Regions from separate parts of the Homo sapiens genome. Here all the other regions are linked to region 3. The links come from fine-mapping of genetic effects on gene expression. A gene starts in region 3. Each other region holds a variant in brackets. All regions are shown on one strand. Distances are between the middles of the regions.

The links.
Region 1: its variant is fine-mapped to the expression of GIMAP8 in whole blood (TOPMed, PIP above 0.99). The same link has a PIP of 0.9 or more in monocytes.
Region 2: its variant is fine-mapped to the expression of GIMAP8 in unexposed skin (GTEx, PIP 0.98).

Annotation. Positions count from the first base shown.
Region 1 is chr7:150,608,118-150,616,301 of GRCh38, forward strand. It overlaps the pseudogene TRPC6P3. Among named protein-coding and RNA genes, the nearest start is that of GIMAP6, 20 kb to the right of the region's middle. The variant C/G (reference allele first, on the strand shown) is at 4,040.
Region 2 is chr7:150,469,861-150,478,044 of GRCh38, forward strand. GIMAP8 (GTPase, IMAP family member 8) reads left to right here. Exons shown (of 5, transcript NM_175571.4): 3 at 969-1,014; 4 at 4,152-4,778; 5 at 7,232-8,184. The coding sequence ends at 7,920. Among named protein-coding and RNA genes, the nearest start is that of GIMAP8, 23 kb to the left of the region's middle. RefSeq lists an enhancer at 7,035-8,184. The variant C/A (reference allele first, on the strand shown) is at 3,828.
Region 3 is chr7:150,446,357-150,454,540 of GRCh38, forward strand. It overlaps GIMAP8 (GTPase, IMAP family member 8), which reads left to right and starts at 4,274. Exons shown (of 5, transcript NM_175571.4): 1 at 4,274-4,819. It overlaps LINC00996 (long intergenic non-protein coding RNA 996), which reads left to right. Exons shown (of 4, transcript NR_034033.1): 3 at 344-533; 4 at 720-1,784.

The sequences.
Region 1 (8,184 bases), 160 kb after region 3:
CCCACACAATAATAATTGGAGACTTCAACACCCCACTGTCAACACTAGACAGATCAATGAGACAGAAAGTTAACAAGGATATCCAGGAATTGAACTCAGTTCTGCACCAAGTGGACCTAATAGACATCTACAGAACTCTCCATCCCAAATCAACAGAATATACATTCTTTTCAGCACCACACCACACCTATTCCAAAATTGACCACATAGTTGGAAGTAAAGCCCTCCTCAGCAAATGTAAAAGAACAGAAATTATAACAAACTGTCTCTCAGACCACAGTACAATCAAACTAGAACTCAGGATTAAGAATCTCACTCAAAACTGCTCAAATACATGGAAACTGAACAACCTGCTCCTGAATGACTACTGGGTAAATAACGAAATGAGGGCAGAAATAAAGTTGTTCTTTGAAACCAATGAGAACAAAGACACAATATACCAGAATCTCTGGGACACATTCAAAGCACTGTGTAGAGGGAAATTTATAGCACTAAATGCCCACAAGAGAAAGCAGGAAAGATCTAAAATTGACACCTTAACACCACAATTAAAAGAACTAGAGAAGCAAGAGCAAACACATTCAAAAGCTAGCAGAAGGCAAGAAATAACTAAGATCAGGGCAGAAATGAAGGAAATAGAGACACAAAAAACCTTTCAGCAAAATCAAGGAATCCAGGAGCTGGTTTTTTGAAAAGATCAAGAAAATTGATAGACCGCTAGCAAGACTAATAAAGAAGAAAAGAGAGAAGAATCAAATAGATGCAATAAAAAATGATAAAGGGGATATCACCACCGATCCCACAGAAATACAAACTACCATCAGAGAATACTATAAACACCTCTACGCAAATAAACTAGAAAATCTAGAAGAAATGGATAAATTCCTCGACACATACACCCTCCCAAGACTAAACCAGGAAGAAGTTGAATCTCTCAATAGACCAATAACAGGCTCTGAAATTGAGGCAATAATTAATAATTTACCAACCAAAAAAAGTCCAGGACCGGATGGATTCACAGCGGAATTCTACCAGAGGTAAAAGAAGGAGCTGGTACCATTCCTTCTGAAACTATTCCAATCAATAGAAAAAGAGGGAATCCTCCCTAACTCATTTTATGAGGCCAGCATCATCCTGATACCAAAGCCTGGCAGAGACACAACAAAAAAAGGGAATTTTAGGCCAATATCCTTGATGAACATTGATGCAAAAATCCTCAATAAAATACTGGCAAACCGAATCCAGCAGCACATCAAAAAGCTTATCCACCATGATCAATTGGGCTTCATCCCTGGGATGCAAGGCTGGTTCAGCATATGAAAATCTATAAACATAATCCAGCATATAAACAGAACCAAAGACAAAAACCACATGATTATCTCAATAGATGCAGAAAAGGCCTTTGACAAAATTCAACAATGCTTCATCCTAAAAACTCTCAATAAATTAGGTATTGATAGGATGTATCTCAAAATAATAAGAGCTATCTATGACAAACCCACAGCCAACATCATACTGAGTGGGCAAACTGGAAGCATTCCCTTTGAAAACTGGCACAAGACAGGGATGCCCTCTCTCACCACTCCTATTCAACATAATGTTGGAAGTTCTGGCCAGGGCAATCAGGCAGGAGAAGAAAATAAAGGGTATTCAATTAGGAAAAGAGGAAGTCAAATTGTCCCTGTTTGCAGATGACATGATTGTATATCTAGAAAACCCCATCGTCTCAGCCCAAAATCTCCTTAAGCTGATAGGCAACTTCAGCAAAGTCTCAGGATACAAAATCAAAATCAGCTACTAAATGGGTGAGAAGCATTTAGTGAGTGCTTAACGCACTCCAGGACGTTGGAATCCAATGATGAACAAGGAAGTGTTCTTCATCAGCCACAACTGTAGGAGACAGACAGCAAGTAGTTAAAATACAAGATCTAAACTACTTTGTCCTGGGTATACCTGGCACCAATTAGGTATCTTTTTTGAGAAGGAAATGTTTCCACAAAGAGGTCAGATAGATTATTTAAAATGGTAAACTGAGGCACAATCAGATATATAGTGTTTATTTGAGTAACAAGCAATTCATGAATTGGGAAACACAAAACCAAAAGAGGGTTAGTGTTTCAATGACAAAGAATCAGAGGCAAAGATTTGTAGGATGAATGTGGATGCAAAATAAATACAGTATTTGATTGTTTGCAGCTATAATATCATCTTTTTTGGTTTATGTTGTTGGAAATCCCTAAACTCATGAACATATATTAGTCAGCTGCTTATGATTGGCTGAGACTAAGTTTCATTTCTGTTCAACATAAGCATTTACCAGAAATGACCCAAGTTAAAATTTTGCTTCTGTTTGCAGTTTAAGCAATGTTAAGGCTATTTTTAATTTTCCATTGGTTTTGTTTGCTCAGCAATGTTTAGGCCCGGTCTCCATTTTAATTGTGCTTTAAGAATTTTCCCTTTTTAGTTATTTCTTCAGCAAGCTGACAGTGTGACCAAATGGCATAGCATTACTCTCAGTTACCAATGTTGATGTAGTCCTTGGAAAGAAAAGTCAGGAAGATGTTGTTGTCATCATTAATCGTTATGCTGGGGTTCAGAGTTACAAAGCTACTGTGAACAATTACTTGGTCCATATTCGTTTCCTTGAGTTGGCTGATCCTAAGGGCAATCTTTTGACATGTGAGTGGCCACTGGAAAGAATAAAAACCCTTGATAGAATGTAATGCACCAGGAGGTAAACACAATAACTATAAGGAGAATAATAGCCAAGAATTGAAAAATTCCTCTGAGCAAAGATTCCCAGGAGTCAAATTTAATCCACTAAAGAAATCAATGCCCATTCAGTATGATATTGGCTGTGGGTTTGTCATAGATAGCTCTTATTATTTTGAGATATGTCCCATCAATACTTAATTTATTGAGAGTTTTTAGCAAGAAGGGTTTTTGAATTTTATCAAAGGCCTTTTCTGCATCTATTGAGGTAATCATGTGGTTTAGGTCGTTGGTTCTGTTTATATGCTGGATTACATTTTATGATTTGTGTATGTTGAACCAGCCTTGCATCCCAGGGATGAAGCCCACTTGATCATGGTGGATAAGCTTTTTGATGTGCTGCTGGATTCGGTTTGCCAGTATTTTATTGAGGATTTTTGCATCGATGTTCATCAGGGATATTGGATAATCCTGCTGCTATAAAGACATCATGCTGCTATAAAGACACATGCACACATATGTTTATTGTGGCACTATTCACAATAGCAAAGACTTTGGAACCAACTCAAATGTCCAACAATGATAGACTGATTAAGAAAATGTGGCACATATACTCCATGGAATACTATGCAGCCATAAAAAATGATGAGTTCATGCCCTTTGTAGGGACATGGATGAAACTGGAAACCATCATTCTCAGCAAACTATCACAAGGACAAAAAACCAAACACCGCATGTTCTCACTCATAGATGGGAATTGAACAATGAGAACACATGGACACAGGAAGGGGAACATCACACACTGGGGCCTGTTGTGGGGTGGGGGGAGAGGGGAGGGATAGCATTAGGAGATATACCTAATGCTAAATGACGAGTTAATGGGTGCAGCACACCAACGTGACACATGTATACATATGTAACAAACCTGCACGTTGTGCACATGTACCCTAAAACTTAAAGTATAATAAAAAACATTAATGGAGAAGGTGGGACTTGTCTGATGAAAGATTTATATTTGTTTCTTAAGATCCTTTAAATTGGAGGCAATAATTTCTAATTTGTTAACATAGAAACATCTTTATCACTATAAGCAGAATCTTCTTTCACAGTTTTTTATTTGTACAAATTTATAGGGAACATGTGAATTTTTGTTACATGTACATAATGCACAGTGAAGGGTATTTAGGGTGTCCATCACACAAATACAGTATATTTTTGTTTAACTATAGTCACCCTACTCTGCCATCAAACACTGAACTTATTACTTCTATCTAATTTTATGTTTGTCCCCTTTAACACAATTCTCTTCATCCACCCTCTACTTTCT[C/G]AGTCTCTGCTATCTTTTCACTCTTTTCTACTTCCATGTGATCGAATCTTTCAACTCCCACATATGATATTTCAACTCCCACATATGATATTTTAACTCCCACATGTGATATTGTTCTTCTTGTGCTTGGCTTATTTCACTTAAGATAAAGACCTCCAGGGAGATCTGACAAGATGGCCGAATAGGAACAGCTCTGGTCTGCAGCTCCCAGCAAGACCAATGCAGAAGACCAGTGATTTCTGCATTTCCAACTGAGGTATCCTATTCATCTAGGAAGTGGGAGCAGCTCATGTGTTGGGGTGATTGGACCCAACACCAGGTCATGGGGGTGACGAAGTCTGGCAGAGTCAAAGGAATGAGAAAAGACGTTTGAGAGAGAAAGTGGGCCCAGGGGTCCAACGTGAGTATGGAGGCTGCGAAGGTCCCAAGCTCTGGAAGCCCAGACTATTTATTGGTGATCAAACAAAGAAACAGGTGGTGAGAATGTGGGGTTGAAAGGGAGTATTGCATTAAGCACATGATTTACAGCTGTGATGGTTTAGCATATGCTCTGCTACTTGAGATAATGGAGAGAAGGTTCTTCTAACTCAAGATACAATCGATCCTGGGAGAGCAAGAAGCAAGGAGCCAGCATCTAGACACATTCCAGAGGCCATGAGGGGTTTTATGCCCTGAGCCCTGGATTCTATCCAAGCCATGAGGGGTTTTATCCCCTGGGCTTAGATTATGGTGCATCAGGGTAGCCTTCCACCCTTTAGCACAGAGCTTGGTGTTCCAAAGGCCAAGAGAGGTTTCAGACCCCGGACCCTGGACAGGTTCCAAGACTTTTTTACATTATGTCAGACATGCAAGCCCTGCCTCAGTTTTTCCCAACACTCAGCTTTTCCCAACATACCCCCCTTTTCTTTTTCATAAAACCACCACAGCTATCATTGCTTGTTCTTGATGGCAGCTTTCTCTTCAGAGGCGGTTTCCTCTTCAGAGGCAGCTTCTGCATCTGCAGACTAAAAGGAGACAGCACAAGCACACAACAACCAGAAAGAAACCCACAATGTAGAGCCTCCAATGGCCTTCAACTATAAATCTTTTGGAACGGGATAAGAGTTTTTTAAGGATCTCAGTTACAATATAAATACTTGGTGATGTTTCCCATAGTCTATTTAGAGACAGAGGGATCAAACTCCTTCCCTGGCTTTAATTATCAAGATAGTTATATTTTCATCAAAGGTTGAATTAATGCAGGTAAACAAGCAACAATCAGGGCATGTAATAAAGTGTGTATTATATCAAGAGTAACATTTCCTATTGCTAGCACGACTTTGAATCCAAAAGGTCCTGCTGGAGAGAAAAGAAAGAGCATTTTCATCCTTACCTCCTTCCCCTCTATTCCTTTTATATTTGCCCTCTCAGATTTTGATTGGACTTTGAGCCATAGCTAATTTCCATAATTCAGAATGTTCTTGTCTGTCCCTGCAAATCTCTGCTTGTCTTTGCTAGTCTCTACCTTTGTACCTCTTTAGGGCACTGACCAGTACCTCTTTAAGGCACTAACCTTATATTGCTAGTCTTTGCTTTTGTACCTCACTGACCAGTACCTCTTTAGGGCACTGACCAATACCTCTTTAGGGTACTGACCTTATATTGCTGGTCTTCATCTATCCGTATCTGTCCCTGTCTGTCCCTATGGTACCTGTTATTTCCTGTGAGTTCCTGCAAGTCCCTGTATTTTCCTACCTATCTCTACTTATCTCTATCTCTACTTACTTATCTCTATCTCTATTTACCTCTATCTCTATCTCTAGTTATGTCTATCTCTGTCTCTATTTATCTCTATCTCTATTTATGTATATCTCTATTTATGTCTATCTCTACTTACTTATCTCTACATCTTCCTGGAAACCTTTTTTATGACCCACATCAGCATCATCCTCAATTTCCTGGAACGAATTGTTGATCATGGCAATTAACATATTTAGCAAAACAATGACCATTGTAACATTACAGACTCCATAAAGAACATAACCAATGTTTTCAATGAATTTGTGGTTATAGTTGATGATCACTGATTTCACTTCAGAAAGTCCAAATATAGCCCAGAACATTGTCTTAAAACTCTCTTCAACGTTGTGAAGGCTTCATTTTGTTTTGCACCAATGTAGTAGGAGTAGAGGTTGAACATTCCAATCATAAAGGCCACAAACACCATAATGAATATGACCATGAACCTGAAGATGTCTTTGACTGCTCCTCCAAGTGACGTCTGCAGAGGTCCAAAGCTTTCATTTGCTGGCAAAATACAAGCTATCCCAGAGAAACTCAAAACCACAGCAACTGCACAAAGACCTTCAGACACCACCCAAGGATCAGAGGGGACCCACTCCCTCCTGGCCAAATTGTAGTATTTCACATTATCTCCCAGTGTTACTTCTGTCAAGTCCTTCAAAGTATCATTTGCATCAATGATGCTTTGGGCTTTGGAAGCATGCCAGAACGCCCTGAATCTTGCAATGAACAATGCTGTGAAAATCACTAACATACCAAAATCAAGCATATTCCACAACTCAAACAAATATTCCTTGGGGCCTTGAGTCCAAATTTCTTTACATTCAGTCCCATATCATGCCTCTGTGCTCATTAAATCTGTTTTTCTCCAGCAGAAGCAGGTTAACTGTGAAACTGAAGCTTCAAGATGACTTTACTTTCCCAGGCTCCTTCTAAGTCCTCACTTTGTCTTCTTTTTCTCTAAATGGGGCCTTCTGAATAAACAAGCCTCAGATTCCACTGGGTCTTACCCCATGTCTCACCCTCTTCATAATAAGTGCCTTAAGAAATTCAAGTAAGCAGAATGTTTGCTTTCACTTTGTCCCATTGTTACCCTGTTTCTTCCAAGTGCTCAGCTTTCCTGACGAGCTTCTTTCAGTGGTCCTCAGGTGTCCTTTGACGATGCATCCTCCACTTTCACATGCTCTAGCATTCCTTCACTGGGGTATTTGTCACCCCAAGTTGGGCAGCCAGGAATGTTGGGGTGATTGGACCCAACACCAGGTGGTGGGGGTGACAAAATCTGGTGGAGTCAAAGGAATGAGTAAAGACAGTTTGAGAGAGAAAGTGGGCCCAGGGCGCCAATGTGAGTAATGGAGGCTGTGAAGGCCCTGAGCTCTGGAAGCCCAGACTATTTATTGGTGATCAAACAAAGAAACAGGTGGTGAGAATGTGGGGTTGAAAGGGAACATTGCATTAAGCACATGATTTACAGCTATGACAGTTTAGCATATGCTCTGCTACTTGAGATAATGGAGAGAAGGTTCTTTTAACTCAAGATACAATCGATCCTGGCAGAGCAAGGAGCAAGGAGCCAGCAAGTCTAGACACATTCCAGAGGCCATGAGGGGTTTTATGTCCTGCGCTTACATTATGGTGCATCAGGGTAGGCTTCCACCCTTTAGCACAGAGCTTGGTGTTCCAAAGGCCAAGAGAGGTTTTAGACCCCGGACCCTGGACAGGTTCCAAGACTCTTTTACATTGTGTCAGACATGTAAGCCCTGCCTCAGCTTCTCCCAACACTCAGCTTTTCCCAACACCATGGAGGGTGAGCGTCACCTCACCTAGGACGTCCAAGCAGCCAGGGGCCTCCCTCCCACAGCCAAGGGAAGTTGTGAGGGACTGTGCTATTTGGCCCAGATAGAACTACACATTTCCCATGGTTTTTGCAATCCACAGACCAGGAGATTCCCTCGTGTGCCTACACCACCAGGGCCCTGGGTTTCCAGCACAAAACTGGGTGACTATTTGGGCAGACACAGAGCTAGCTGCAGGAGTGTTTTTTCACACCCCAGTGGCACCTGGAACCCCAGTGAGACAGAATGGTTCACTCCCCTTTAGAGAGGGCTGAAGCCAGGGAGCCAAGTGGTCTCGCTCAGCAGGTCCCAATCCCTTGGAGAACAGCAGGCTAAAAGCCACTGGCTTGAAATTCTCACTGCCAGCCCAGCAATCTGAAGTTGACCTGGGATGATGGAACTTGCTGGGGGGAGGGGCGTCCGCCATTACTGAGGCTTGAGTAGGCAGTTTTCCTCTGACAGTGAAAATACAGTCATGTATCCCTTAACAGGGATACCTTCTGAGAAATGCATTATTAAGTGGTTTCA
Region 2 (8,184 bases), 24 kb after region 3:
ATCTACTTAAAGAATGATGTAGTTCTGTCTATATTGACTTCTACAGATGTACAGAATGCATTATTAAGCAGATTGTAGAACAAATAATAAGTCTCCATATGTTCATGTATGCTTGTATGTATTTGTATGAACATAGAAAAAGATAGAAGTATATATACCAGTTAACAACTGTTACTTTTCTGGTGGAGTGGGAATGCAAAGATCATTAATTTTTATATTATGGACATTTACCTCATAACAATCTTTTGAATTTAGAGAACACTAAATAATTTGAACTGGGCTATGTAAGGTTAAAGAAATCTGATAATGACAGCTAAATGGAGAGGATGCAGGGAGAGGGATGGTTGAGGGTGTCAATGATATTGGGCAAAGCCAGGCAAGAAAGCAGAGGGAAGATTTCCTTGGCTGGCATGAAGATTTAACAAAGATAAGGTTAAAATGAAGTCTAGGAAGTTTCTAAGACTAGCAGGTTCATCAAGATTGCATACTGTTTTTTCACCTCCTTTCTTGATTCCACAACAATAAATATTTTGGAACTAAGTATCAGGATTCCCCAGGCAGGAGAAGGGGATGTCAGTTAGGTGTTTGGTTCTCTATCCTGTTGTCTCCATTTGCCAGACTTGGGGGGGTGGGGAACGGGATTCCAAATTATATTGGACAATTAACCTCAGGTTAGAATAAGCTTCCTTTCCATACTGGGAGCAGTGAGGGAAGGAGACGTTGGAAACATCACCTTCTCCGAGAACCAGTCCTAGCAGCATCAGGGGATCTAAGGATCCACTGCCATTGTGGACAGGTCCACAAAGACCAACAAAGACCATGACCAGGGCCTTGATTTGACCACATCTGACTCAGCAGATCATTCTGAATTAATACTTCAATTTCCTTTTTTTTTTTTTTTTTTTTTTCAGTTTGTGGAAGATGAGGTTTTAGATCTGTGTGCACTATTTTGTTCCTTTATTTTCTAGGATTGTGTGAATGAAGCTGCATCTCAAGAGGGAGACAAGCCACAGGGTAAGTTGATCTTTAAGAAACATTAAGCTCACACTTGTATTCTTTTGAATGCATTCTGCAGCCAAAGTGAAGCGGAAACATTATCCATATAAACCAGAAAATTCACCCTGGGGACCTAGCTGAGGTTGGTTCCCACAAGCTATCCCCTAGGAAACTCCTAACACTTGTGAGTAGGTATAGCACCAGCAAAGTTCCTGGACCCAGCGAGGGTGTCCTTGGACTTTTCTGAAGTGTTACAGAGCTGGGCTTGCCTCTTGTGTCTTCTTTCCTAACTCAGACTCTTCTTTCTGGCCTTGGATCCGGCCCTGCCCAAGTTTTGACTCCTCTTAGGAAAGCAGAAATCACTCCTTCATGGACAACACCAACTTGGAGAATTCTCTGATGGGGTGCAGTATTCAGGTGATGATTGCCAGTAATGATAGATCCTGCACATCTGCATAAGTCAATATGTATAGATCTACCTCCTTCCGTATAGTAGATGCAGTTTGTTTCACAATGTGGACACACAAAACAAATGCAACCATGCCTTTACTGATGGATTTGCAGGTTATTTCTGGGTCAGCCCTGTGCAAGCTCTGAGTATCCAGTCGTGAATAAGATAGACAAGATCCTTTTCCTCATGGAAATCTTCCAAATAATAAAATCATAATTTTAATAGTATTGCTAATAATTATAGCTGAGGCCGGGTGCAGTGGCTCATGCCTGTAATCCCAGCACTTTGGGAGGCCGAGGTGGGTGGATCACTTGATGCCAGGAGTTCAAGACCAGCTTGGCCAACATGGCAAAACCCTGTCTCTACTAAAAATACAAAAATTAGCCAGGCATGGTAGTGCGTGCCTGTCGTCTCAGCTACTCGGGAGGCTAAGACATGAGAATCACTTGAATCTGGGAGCGCAAGATTGCAGTGAGCTGAGATCATGCCACTTTACCCCAGTCTGGGCAACAGAGCAAGACCCTGTCTCAAAAAAAAAAAAAATTGCAGCTGACATTATGTCCTGGGAAATAACTTTCATAAATATGTAATTCAATCTTCATAGCATATTCATATATAATCCTCTTAAAATACACCAGTTCAATTCTTGTAACAATCTTGTAAAGAAGATGTTGTGAGCCTCATCCTCATTTCACAGCTGAGTGCACTCAGCCAGAAATACGTGTACTCAGGCAGAAGGGTTTCAAAATTCTGGCAATGCCCTTTGGCCGAGACCCCAGGAACACACGTGTGACTGAACAAAAGTGCGTTTATTGACCTGTGGCTGTGAGGGCCCAGCACACCATGGGGAGTCACAGGGCTGTCAGAAACAGGGGGCAGGGAAGGACTTTTTATAGGATGTGGGCTCATGTTAGGTGATTCTGAGGAAGGTTCCAGGAAGTGGGACTTTGCTCCAGGATGGATGCGCTTAGGAAGTGGGGGGTAGTTCCACAATGAAGTGTTTGAATAATTCTTCTGTCCAAGGTGACAAGGGTGGAACGAGGCTAAAGCCATCAGGAGGCAGCTGTCATCTATTTAGCCAGTGCAGGGGATGTTCGGGCAATGCTGTTGTTTTTGTGTGCTCAGATACGATTGCAGAGTGGTTGTGGTTGTGGAAGACTCGTGTCTGATTTTCTGTAATACTGTGGATGAGAGACAGGAGGGTGCCATGGCCTTGCTGTGGAGGCCAGACCAGCTCCTGGCTCTCAAGGGCTATTTATTATCCCTTCTCACTCCTACTTTTAACCACTGCACTGTATGGTCTCTCTAAATTGAAGAGAGTCCATATTCGAAATAAATATAAAATTATTATTTTGGTAAGAATAGAGGAAATACACATGGCAGCTGATTTGTATAGTTTTGCGGTGAGCAATTTAGGTGAAGTTCTCTTGAAGAAGTTATATTTGCATAGGAACCTGAGTAGCCAGCAGGAGATAGGGCAGGAGGCAAAGAAAGTGCTGTCATATGGGCAAAAGTCCTGAAGTCTGTAAAGGAGAGTAGGGGGGAGTGTGAGGGAGGGAGGGGCACTTCCAGGCCTGACTCAAGTTCTTCCTTAACTGTGAAGCCTTCCATGCACACTTCCGTGCTAGTCAGGTCCTAAGGGCTTTACAGGTGCTGTTTCCTTTAGTCTTTTCAACCTCAACGTGGGCATTAGATTCCCATTCTACCAACATGGAAACAGATTCGCAAAGCGGTAAGTTTTCCAAGGCAATACAGCAAGGGCCTTTGATGCTGTGTCCATCCCACCTTCCCAACTTGCTGCTCAGACCCTTCCCACGAAGGCTGTTGATGACTCAGCCTCAGAGAAAGCTCCCTGCAGTTGCAGACTCTCCCTTTTGCTCAGTTCATAGGTCTGGTGTTGATGCTGCCTCAGCCAGGGGATGTGTGGAGAGATAGTTGTAGGGTGCAGGTTTGCAGGTTTTTACAGCAATTTATTGAGGTACGATTTACACAGAGTAAAATGCACAAATCTTAAGCAAACAGCTTGATGCCTTTTTCTATATCTATACATATGGGATCCCCATCTAGATAAAGATATAGAGCATTTCCATCATCTTACAGATTCTTGCTGCCCCTCGCCAAAGAGAAACACTATCCAGATTTCTATCAACATAGATTAATTTGGTCTGTTCTTCAACTTCATATGGTAGAATCATCTAGTATGCAGTTTTTGTGTCCTGCTTCTTTTACTTAGCGTGTTTTTTTGAGATCCATCTATACTGCATATCGCTAGTTCACTTTTTTTTTAATTGCTGAGTGTATTTGATTTTATACCACCAAGGGGCATTTGAAAATCGGATTCTCCCTGCTCCTGCCTTAGCCCCTGGGCTTACCTTTGGTA[C/A]GTACTTACCTTTGGTAGGCCCCAGTACTTACCTTTGATAACAAAATGAGGGGAACCCTGAGGACCTAGACCAACGAAGGCCAAAGTTGGCATGTTCGTGTTCCTGGGGAATCATAAGCTCCATGAATATCTCTTAGTTCACTCCTGCCCCTGTTTGTGGCTTTCACCTTGATGGAGAGCTTCTGGCTGAGAGTAGAGTTCTACTGGTTTACCGTGTTGTTGCCATTCTCTATACAAGTTTGCAGGGATGAGAAATCATAAAACCTGCCCACATCCATATTCAACTGCAGGAAGAGACTCTGAACCTGTCCATTTGTCCCACAGGCCCAAGGGAAAGGCAGCTGCAGTCCACAGGACCCGAGCAGAATCCGGGGACATCAGAACTGACAGTCCTCCTTGTGGGGAAACGCGGTGCTGGAAAAAGTGCAGCAGGAAACAGCATTCTGGGGAGGCAGGCCTTTCAGACCGGATTTAGTGAGCAGTCAGTAACCCAGAGCTTCTTGTCTGAGAGCAGAAGCTGGAGAAAAAAGAAAGTTTCGATCATTGATGCTCCGGACATCTCATCTTTAAAGAACATTGACTCAGAAGTTAGAAAACACATCTGTACAGGCCCCCATGCCTTCCTGCTGGTGACACCACTGGGCTTTTACACTAAGAATGATGAGGCAGTGCTGAGCACCATCCAAAACAATTTTGGAGAAAAATTCTTTGAGTACATGATCATACTTCTTACCAGGAAAGAAGATTTAGGGGATCAGGATCTAGATACGTTCTTAAGAAACAGCAATAAAGCTCTCTATGGTCTCATCCAGAAGTGTAAAAACAGATATAGTGCCTTCAACTACCGGGCAACAGGAGAAGAAGAGCAAAGGCAGGCGGACGAGCTCCTGGAAAAAATTGAGAGCATGGTGCATCAGAATGGGAACAAGCATTGTGTTTTCAGAGAAAAAGGTAAAACTGTGAATAGGATATATATTTTTACATATATCATTTAAAAATAGGTATAAAATATATAAGAACTTTTTATTTTCTTTTTTTTCTTTTTTTTTATTATACTTTAAGTTTTAGGGTACATGTGCACATTGTGCAGGTTAGTTACATATGTATACATGTGCCATGCTGGTGCGCTGCACCCACTAACTCGTCATCTAGCATTAGGTATATCTCCCAATGCTATCCCTCCCCACTCCCCCCACCCCACAACAGTCCCCAGAGTGTGATATTCCCCTTCCTGTGTCCATGTGATCTTATTGTTCAATTCCCACCTATGAGTGAGAATATGCGGTGTTTGGTTTTTTGTTCTTGCGATAGTTTACTGAGAATGATGATTTCCAATTTCATCCATGTCCCTTCAAAGGACATGAACTCATCATTTTTTATGGCTGCATAGTATTCCATGGTGTATATGTGCCACATTTTCTAAAAGGCATAGAGAAGATAAAAAGGACAGGTCTCCTGTTCCTGTGTTAGTCTGCTTAGGATGGCAGCCTCCAGCTCTATCTATGTTACTGCAAAAGACAGGATTTCATTCTTTTTTATGGCTGCCTATTATTCTATGGTGTATATGTACCTGTACCTAAAATAAAAGTTGAAATGAAACAAAAAAGAAGTTGAAACTGGAAGAAAAATAAAGGAAGGATAGGTCTGTTCTATGGACTAACTCTTTTCTCTTTCTTTGCTTCTCAAATTGTACTGAAGTTATAGCTTTTCCATGCACATTCTCTTGAACCGGTCTTTAATTTTTTCATGATCTTTACTATCTCTTCAACTGGATAGTGTGAGTGTCTTGAAGAAAGGAGCTGATGCTTTCCAACCCTTTGTTTCCCCACAGTGTACTGTTGCCCAGAGCTTGGCACACTGCTCTCTTTACTACTTAAGAAGGGCTCCTCATCCACTTAGTGCTACACGTTCAGTTGACCTATGCTGAGGTCCTTCCCATTCTTACTCATCCCGTTTTTTTTTCTGCTTCAAACATCCTCACCCAGGAAGAAGATAAAACCCAAAGGAGCATATTTTCTTATTGAACCCTCCTTTAGAAGTATAGATACATGGGAAAGTCAGGAGAGGCTTTGTGTAGAAAGCCCAATTTGAAACAGGTTTTAGAGAATGGGTAGGGATTAAATGGCTGAGCAGAAAGCTGGAAGATATTCCAGAGAGTACACCAGCAATTTGAAGCAAAGAGGTAGGACTAAGCATGTCACTTGTTAGGGGACAAAAAAGAATAATCTTGGTGGAGATGGGGGTTCACAGCTCTAAAGGACATCTTCCAAGAACATTGAAGATTAAGGCGTTGAACATTAAGAACACTGAATTAGAGAATATGGGATGGGGAGTGGGGCCGGATTTCAGAGGTACATGAGAAACACACCCTCTGTAGGTACAGAAGTAGGGACTGAAATATATGACAAATATGGGAGTGTTGGAAGATTAAGCTATTGTTCATCTGCTGGGCATAACTATGAAGTTGAAGTTTCAGCATAAACAGGTTAATAATTTCCCCTTGAAGGAAGAGCATGGGATGTGCTTTCTTCCTCCTTTGCATTGAAGTAGATATTAGCTATTTGATATGAAATTCATAATGGAAGAGAACTACGAAGAGACTTGAATGAGCACTGGACTGTCACAGTGCAAGTGCAAAAGCATAAGAACGATCTCCAAAGAACGCATATTGTAAGGTCTCTATGTGTCTGTAAATTCCATTTATAGGGAAATTCATTCTCTTTCTCCATCATGGACACCACACACCCAACAGTGTTAGTGGATATTCATTATTATAACCATGCGGTTTCTTCTGACTCATCAGTGAAAGGCAATTAAGTTCAATGTGGTTTTAATGAGAAATGAATTTTTACATGTCCTAACTAAGGAAACTGGTAATCTATCAGTGATATGTAGAGTTTCTTTTTCATGAAAGTCAATTTTACAGAATAATTCTTTAAATACTGTAAGGAGATGTTGCTATAGTTAGCAGTAGTTGGGAGTGAGAAGATGTAGTTGTAACAGGAACAGAAGACAAAGGGATGAGATGTGTAGACGGAACCCAGCTGAGGGGAGCAGAGAGTAAGAAGGCCAGGGGACACTCACAGGTGCCAGGGAGTCTGTCTGGAAGGTGCTGCAAAAAGGGAGCAGAGCCGATTCAGTGATAGGAACAGTGCCACATTGGTGGATGAACCCTGGACGGAGACTGTATGTAGTCCAAGTCCTGCCATGAGTCCACAGACTGAGTGAACTGGGCCAAGTCATTCCCGTGTTTGGAGATCCCCCTGCTTGGGTGAGAAGGAGGTCTTGATGCTGTTTGAACATGCTGTTTACTTTAGTGATGTAATCTTGCTTCATGGGATAACTTTAAAATCCAATTTCAGATCAGCCCATGGTCACGAATCTTTCCCACTTTCCTTTGACAGAAACCCTGAACATTGTCCTTGTGGGGAGAAGCGGGACTGGGAAGAGTGCGACCGGGAACTCTATCCTGGGGAGCCTCGTCTTCACCTCTCGGCTCCGGGCCCAGCCAGTCACCAAGACCAGCCAGAGTGGCAGGAGGACATGGGACGGACAGGAGGTGGTGGTTGTGGACACTCCTTCCTTCAACCAGATGCTGGATGTCGAAAAGGACCCATCCCGGTTAGAAGAGGAGGTCAAGCGCTGTTTGTCCTGCTGTGAAAAAGGGGACACATTTTTTGTCCTGGTGTTCCAGCTGGGACGATTCACTGAAGAGGACAAAACAGCTGTGGCGAAACTGGAGGCCATCTTTGGAGCAGACTTTACGAAATACGCGATTATGCTGTTCACCCGGAAGGAAGACCTAGGGGCGGGGAATTTGGAAGACTTCATGAAGAACTCAGATAACAAAGCCCTTCGGCGCATTTTTAAAAAGTGTGGGCGGCGAGTTTGTGCTTTTAACAACAAAGAAACAGGCCAGGCCCAGGAAACCCAGGTGAAAGCTCTTTTAACAAAGGTCAATGATCTGAGAAAAGAAAGTGGGTGGTCCGGGTATCCCCATACACAGGAGAACGTCAGCAAACTAATTAAAAATGTCCAGGAAATGTCCCAAGCCGAAAAACTCCTTAAAAATTTAATAGGTATTTTACAATAGGTAGCCGAAGTGCCTGGGGTCTCTTCAATTAGAGACACCCTCAGGTTGGGGGGAGGGGCGGGGCATGGTACAACCTGTGGGAAGGGAAGCGGGTTCATGGCTTTGAGGGCCTGAGAGGCAAATGCATCCCGCCTTGTGATGTATCAGCTATTTGTAGATAAATAAATTGCAGGTGGGGGCGAATAGTAGGGTATTATAAAGGAGAAAGAAGATACAAGGTGGGGAAATCTGGAAAAAGATTTCAGACATTAGGCTGATAATAAG
Region 3 (8,184 bases):
CCGACCCTCACTTTTTATAGGTGAAAAAATATGGAGAATTTGGGGAAATCCCAGGAAGAAGAATGAGTAGTGAGGTGCTGGGAAAACCCTGGGATCATATGAAGTTGCTGTGGAATTTTACAGGAATTGCCCCTCCCTCTCTGTTTGGGTGATCCTTCTCTTTTGGTGGATTTTTTCATTTCAAAATCAGGTCTCTTGCCAGCTTTTAACTACCATTGACTCATAGTTTTTACCTTCACAAAGCTGTTTGCTACCACTATCAATCACTCAGAGTTTAAGAACTTTCTATTTCCACTCCTGATTATTGTCTGTGGGCCTCTTATGACTGCCTGTATCTCTCTAGAATCTTCCAGAAGCAACATGACTCTTTTAGGCCTTTGCTGCCAGCTAAGAAGGTGAAGAAAAGTCACCACTGCAATAAAAAGAGGGCACTTTGTCTTACTTGGCAATAAACCACCACCAGCAGCAGCAGCAATAGCAGCACCCCCACCCCCACCAAACCCAAAACAAACAAGAAAAGCAAAAGGAAACCTGTAAGCAAAGCCCAGGGGAGCTGTGTTGAATGTAGGTCCAGAGTGGGGTTGAGGGCTGCAGCTGGGCACAGGGTGCCTGCGCTCCAGCAAGAGTGCAGGCTGGAAGAAAGTCATTCTTTATCATCTCATTGGCCCTTGGATGGTGTCGAGAAGATTTAGAAATATTTTTATCCTCTTTATTTTTAGTCGTTTTCAGTGAGAGGATTGGCATGAAGAATCCTTGGGACACAGGAATCAATCAAGACCTTTGGATGCCCCTGCCTGCTCTGTCTCTAGAAGCCTCAAGCCCAGCATCCCCATGCCGACGTGCTCATCTCTAGCAAAACACCAGCCTCTCAGCCCTCTCTCCATAAAGGCCACTAGAAAGTACTGTGATGCCAGGCTGCTCCACATCCAGGCAGCCTGGGTGACCACTGCCCTTTATGAGAATCAGAAAAAGCTGTCTCCCGAGTAGTTGGAATTACAGGTGCATGCCACCATGCCTGGCTAATTTTTGTATTTTTAGTAGAGATGGAGTTTCACTATGTTGGCCAGGCTGCTCTTGAACTCCTGACCTCAAATGATCCACCCGACTCGGCCTCCCAAAGAGCTGGAATTACAGGAGAAGCTAAACGTTTTAAAATAAGTATATTATTTCTGAATTACTATAACAGACATGGACTCCATTTGAACAAGATACTTAATTCCATCAAAAACTTGTCAAAATATACAAATTTAGTCACAAGACACTTTACTACCATCTACCAAAGCTGTAGTAAACACACACATTTTCCATCTTTGAAATGAAATAACGTATAATAATGTTTTCCAAAATAACAAAGATGTCTGCAGTGAATAGCACTCCCTTTGATGTGGCAACTGGGTCAATCGTGTTAACAACTGTGAATTCATCTTTTTAAGAAATTCTTTTATTGTTTCTTTTCTTTTCCGCGACAGTCTCACTCGTGTTGCCCCGGCTGGAGTGCAGTGGCGCTATCTTGGCTCACTGCAGCCTCCGCCTCCCGGGTTCAAGCAATTCTCATGCCTCAGCCTCCTGAGTAGCTGGGATTATAGGCACGTGCCACCACACCCAGCTAATTTTTTTGTATTTTTAGTAGAGACGGGGTTTGACCATGTTGGTCAGGGTGGTCTCGAATTCCTGACCTCAGTTGAGCCGCCGGCCTCGGCCTCCCAGGAAGTGCTGGGATTACAGGCATGAGCCACCAGGCCCGGCCTTATTGTTTCTATTTGTAATAAATCTGTTCCCCTTGCTGCTGTCTCTGCGTTAGTTCTCCTCATTTCTAGCTTGGGTGCTGCAGCAGCCTCTGACCGGTCCTTCTGTCTCCAGCCTGACTGCGTTTTCTCGCACCTGCTGGGCTGTCTTAGGGCCCCGATGCCGGTGGCGTTTGCCATTCTCCGTCTGCCTGAGGCGTCCTCCCTCCGTCATCTGACAGGCAAATGTTACAGCCCTTCAAGACTTAGGCATTACCTTTCCCGCGCGGCCTTCCCTTCACTGTGCCTTACAATCTTCTCCATGGCAGGACATAGTGAAACTCCGTCTCTACCACTCCGTCAGTACCTGCCACAGGAAATGGCGGGTTTACGGATTTGTTTATAAGTTTATTTCCCCAATTGGTTGTTTTTCCATCTTGCGGGGTTTACATCGTCTCCTCCTCACTTGCGTGGCAGCCTGGACGCATCTCTATCACAGCACATTACCTCGTTTCGTGACCACAGCGTAGTCTCTTCCCCATCCTCAGACTGAGTTAGGGCCCCTTTGAGTCAGGTATTTGCCTTGCTAATCTTTGTGCCCTCTGTGTCTAATACGGTGCTTGGTCCTGGTAGATTTCTCCTTGCTTGCATAACATGTGTCTTCCTGGCTTATTCGATTTCTGGAAGTCTAGAACTTCTCCCCAGTGTTTCACCTGCCTGCTGAGTCAGGGCTCTCGGCCCGCTGGGGAGCATTTTGCTGCACTTGTCATTAGCCACAAAGCCACTAGGGGGCAGGGAGCCCCCATCCTGCCTCAGATCGGTGCCAAACCAGAACCCGGCAGCCTGCCTTCTGCACGGAAATCAATTCTCTAGGAGCTGATTTGCTGAAAGATCATTTTGCAAAATGGTCAACTCAGCAAATAATCGACTTGCTGAATCTTTGAGGAGTTATTTGCAGCTTCAGTTTTACTTAGAGCAATCCCTGGATGCTTAATATTTCATTTAAGAATGAGTGAGCCTTTTCTTCTCTATTTTGGGGAAACAGTTTCTTGCTGAGCCTCTGCCTCTGTTAGTACCCCAGCGGGGATGAACTGCAGTACCTGGCTTCGGGTTTTTGTCTTTTCATTATAATGAGTTGGTTTTATGTGCGTTGACCTACTGTAAAGGAAGGGTGGGGTTCTTCCAAAATAGATCCTCTTTCAATGAGGAGACAGGTAGAGTGGGACATGGGAAGGGCTTTGTCAGCTTTCCCCATCAAGATGTGTCCTGTGTGTCCCCAAAGCTCTTCTTGAGCCATCCCAGCATAACCAGGGTTTCCCTCAGGTTCATAACAAGGTAGAGCAGTCCTCAAGGCTGGCGCATGAAGACCAGTCCAGGGGGAGGGTGGATCCCTCGGGATGTGATAGGCTGACAGCAGCTCCCCAAAGCCTGTGGTTTTGACTACTGTAGAGACTTCATATCTGAAGCATGCCCCTCTACTTCAGCCACCCCCACTGCTCCTCCTTCTGCGGGGTCCCTTTGGAAAGCTTAGCACCACCTCAGACATTTGGAAAACTAACTTGAGCTCCAGTCCCTCGAGGCCCTAGCCTCTGCATCCTGTGAAGAGGGCCCTGCTGTGCAGAGCGCAGAGGGTCCCGCACTCACTTGGATGAACCTCTAGGGCATTCTGCTCAGTCTCAGGAGGGCAGACACTGTGGGACTCCACTCACATGAGTATCTGACGTTGCCAAAAATCATAGAAACAGGCCGGGTGTGGTGGCTCACACCTGTAATCCCAGCGCTTTGGGAGGCTGAGGCAGGTGGATCACTTGAGGTCAGGAGTTCAAGACCAGCCTGGCCAACATGGTGAAACCCCGTTTCTACTAAAAATACAAATATTAGCCGTGTGTGGTGGCGGGAACCTGTAATCCCAGCTACTCGGGAGGCTGGGGCAGGAGAATTGCTTGAACTCGGGAGGTGGAGGTTGCAGTGAGCCGAGATCACACCATTGCACTCCAGCCTGGGCGACAGAGCAAGACTCTGTCTCAAAAAAAAAAAAAAAATCATAGAAACGGAAAGTAGAACGGTGGTTACCCGGGCTGGGGTTCGGGGAGGTGAGTTGGGGTGTAATGGGGAGAGTTTGGGTGCTGCAGGATGAAAAGTCCTGCAGATCTGGCACACAACCATGTGAATGTACTTTCTACTGTGGGCTATACACTTAGAAATGGTTAGGATGGTACTATTAATGTTACATCATTTTTACCCTAGTAAACATTTTTTAAGAAGTCTTCCTCCGTGTTTGACTTCCTTATGAAGTAGAGACCAGGTAGTTTGGACACTATGTTCTTTCACAAAAGGGATTTCATTTTGTGAAATATTTGAAAGCATCGAAGTCTAGCATTTCACGTTTTGCAAGCTGGGGAAAAGCATTCATTCCCTGAGAAGCAGCGTTGGTCTGTCAGGCTTGGAGTTCCCCGGGTTGTGGGTTTTAGGGAAGGGAAGGGAAGCGAGGAAGGACTTGTGAGAGGAAGTCCTAAAGGCCACTTAAGGGCACACAGAGGCCCGGAGCTGGCTTTGCTCAGAGCTTGTAGCGGCGCCACAATCTCTGTCCTCTCAGGAACAGGAACTGGCTTGACGTCCTTTTCCTGCCCTATCCAAGCCCCTGTTCTTGCAGCCCTTCTGAAGCTCAGCCTGGCACCGGCCCCGGCGCCCCAGCCCCTGGCCAAGCCTCTGCTGTCATTTCTCCTCCCTCCTCTCAGTCTGCAGCTGCGGGACGGGCCGGGCTCCTCAGTTTCTGCTGTGTTGTGACCCCACGAGGCGCTCAGCACCCAGGGAAGGCGCGTGTGTCCCCGATGCTGGCTCCTCCCTGAGCCCCGACGGCTCTCGAGGTTCTGAGCCTGTGGCCTGCACAGGGAACTTCCTCTCCGACTGCATTTATGCCTCTGTGGATGTGAAGGCTATTTCTAGAAATCTCTTCCTTTGCAGAAACACCCGAAACCCTCCTGCCAGGAAGACCAGGGCCTGGGAAGAGGGTCGCTCTCCGGCCATTCTCCCCTCACCCTCCTCACCTTCCTCACATCCTGTGCCCTGGGGGACCAGCAGCTGCTTCCACCCAGGTGAGAGATGGAGGGATAGAGCCAGGTGGATTGCGGAGCCTCGGAGACTGTGGGACGCCGTGGGACCCCATGGGACACGACCGCAGTGCATGTGTGACATGTGCACTCGTGTGTAGATGTGTGTGCACTGGTGCATGGCTGTGGGGGAGGATGGGCTTGGCACCGGGAAGGCAGCCTGCTCAGCCATGGGAGAGGAGGCTGGGTTGAATGGCAGGGTTGAATGGCAGAGTTGAATGGCAGGGGCCCTGGGAAGCTTTCCTCCTGGTCCAAAGCGTGTCTCCCCAGCCTGCTGGGGAGTAGATTCGGCAGGATGGGGACAGAGGCATATTCCCAGACATCTATGAGAGTGGCTGTCCTAAAAGAAGGCGTGTCGGGGAGTGGGTGTGAGCCCTGAAGAGGAGGAGGGCTGAGACTGGCAGAAGGGAGGAAGAAGCAGGCGGAAGCAGCCGGTCAGATGCCCCATGAAGCTAGATGGTGCCGCAGAGCAGCCCCCAGGAGGAAGCCAGCGGAGCTCCTCCCGCAAAGCAGGGGGTGGGGGATGCTGATTTTTCCACGTCTGCTTTTCTGATCTTTCCTGCCCCTTGCACAGTTAGGATTCTGTGAACTGGGCATTGGAGGGATTGGAGGGGTCAAGACCTTACCAAAAGCAATATTTCTGATTTCACCTACATTTCAGCCAACCTGGTCCTCAGCAGTTAACCTCTTCCCTTCCTCTTGATGGTTGCCCTGCTGGGCTGGGTCTAAGGTCTTCCCCACGCTGGGCTCTGGAGGCATCTCCAACCACCCTGCTCTGTAAGTGGGAACTGCGATTAGATGTGGGATGAATCCCCGCATGGCTGGATGCTGTGCTCAGATGCCTGAGTCCACGTTTGCCTTGGGCTGTTTCCTGAGAAGGAGGCAGAGGCTGCCTTTACAGTCTTCAGTGAATTATAGGAAGAACGCTCTCTTTTTCTCTCAGTTGCTCTGCTGGGGTCTCCAGAGTGGCCTGGGAAATTGAGCAGAGGGAAATGTGGGCTGGCAGAGCGTGAGTGAGGGTGAGTTTGGGTACCTTTTTGTCCTTAAGTGCACTTTCTACATGTTGGGGTGAAGTGCTACTGGCTGGGAAGCTGTATGTGTGGTAGGAGTGTGCATGTGCGTGTGTGTATGTGGGTGTGTGTGTGTAGGTCCTGACATCATGTGGAGCTGCAGGCAGGAGTCCAGCCAAGACTCATTGGTTTGGTCATACTCTGCTGGGGAACCATGCAAGGCTGTGTCGCTTAATTGGGAAAGAAATTTCTTTCTTCTTCAGACCTGTGGGAGGCCTCTGCTTCCTTCAGCTTGCTGTTTTCTCACTAGTGTCTTTTTTTCTTAAATTAATTTACAGAGACATCTCACTTCACTTGCATATATATGTGTGTGTGTATGTATATATGTATATATATGTATATATGTATGTATATATGTATATATGTGTATATATGTATATATATGTGTGTATATGTGTGTGTGTGTGTGTGTGAGATATATATATATATATATATATATATATATATATACATGCGAGTGGAACTACAGGCACCCACCACCATGCCTGGCTAATTTTTGTACTTTTAATAAAGACGGGGATTTCATCATGTTGACCAGGCTGGTCTCAAACTCCTGATCTCGAGGGATCTACCTGCCTTGGCCTCTGAAAGTGTTGGGGTTACAGGCGTGAGCCACTGCGCCCGGCCTCCCTCTCAGTTCTAAAAACCGTTTTTCTTCTTTTCTTCACATTTCTGTCTCTCCTGTGATCGTTCATTCCTTTACCTCCACGTATTGGGCATATACTACATGCCAGGCACAATGTTAGGGCCTGGGGACACAGAACAAAACAGGCATGTTTGGAGTTTCAGCACATGCTGTTATGGAGCTTTGTACCAAGGGTAGTACAGAGAACATTTAGACATTTAAAAATAAAATTAATAAATAATTATAAAATATAAATAATATCAGATAGAATCAATGTTATGAAGAAAATTGAGGAGAGAGAGGAGATAGGGCATTAGTGTGAGAGCTTCTCTCCATAGGGTGTATCTGGGTGAAAGATGCTCTTAGAAGATCCCCGGTGCTGATTAGGTTTGAACCCACCGGAAATATTTTTCCCCTGGTGGACCGGTTCTGAGGTTCTGAGGTGTCTGAAGCTGCGGTGGGCTCTGCCCCGTGCCGTGCAGCCATCCAGATGATTCCAGAGAGAGGCCTCTGCCAAGGCCCTTGTGGGCTTTGCCTCGCCCTTTTCGAAAGTGGGCCCTGCCACTGCCTTTACTACCTCCCTGGGTCATTCCCTGCAGTGCAGCCTCTCCCCTGAGTGCCACAGACCCCATTTTTTGAAAAGGTATGAACCACCAAATTGCTGCACAGAAAAAGGGCTTTCCCACTCTTCACTTTCTTCGGCGTATCTGCTGCATTTTGCTTGTTCTTCAAGTCAATAACCATCAACTCAGAAACAAGTATTTATCAGATACTTTCTTTATGTTGTAGATACAGTGGTGAGAAAAACAGAGCAAGTCCTTATTCTCATGGAACTCACCTGTAGTGGTGGCAGACTAAAAAGCACTAAGCAACTAAATGCAGATGTGAAGGGTGACAGTAGTGGGTGTTGGGTACGGGGCGGGGGGCACAGAGGAGTCACGACTCTTAGGGTGGCAGTGGTGGGTGCTGGGTATGGGGCGGGGGTGCCCGTGGGGCATAGAGGGGTGGACAGCTCTTAGGGTGGCAGTGGCGGGTGCTAGGTATGGGGTGGGGGTGTCAGTGGGGCACAGAGGCATGGACAGCTCTTTAATAGCGGGTGGAGGCTGGAGAGGGCCTCCTGTACTAAGGGGACAGTGTGATAGAGACCTAAGGGAAGTGCTCAGGCACATGTCTTGCACATGTCTGCAAGGGACAATGCCCCAGTTCAGATGAACAGCAAGCATGTTTGAAGTACAGCGCAGGCTGATGTGACTATGGCACACAATGTGAGGGGAAGGGGGTGGGAGATGAGGTCAGAGAGCAGCTGGGCACAAGGTAGGGTCTCGTGACCACTATAAAGGCTTTGCCTTTTACTTTGAATGGGTGGAGAGTCACTGGGGGTGGGGGGAGGTTTAGAATGAAGCGTGACATTACCTGTCTCTTGTTTTAACAGGAGAGGAGAACTGTGGCTATTGGTGGACAATAGACAGCTGGAGAAGGGTGGAAACCGGGGAGCAGTGTTAATATTACTGCAAAAGTCCAAAGAGGAGCTGATGACCAGTTCAATCTGGAAAAGTTAGGAAAGGCTTGACATGGAGCCTCAGAGTCCTTGGGCTAAGTGATGGAGAATGGGTAGGAACGTTCCAGGCAGACAGGAGGATGGGGTGCAGGCAAGG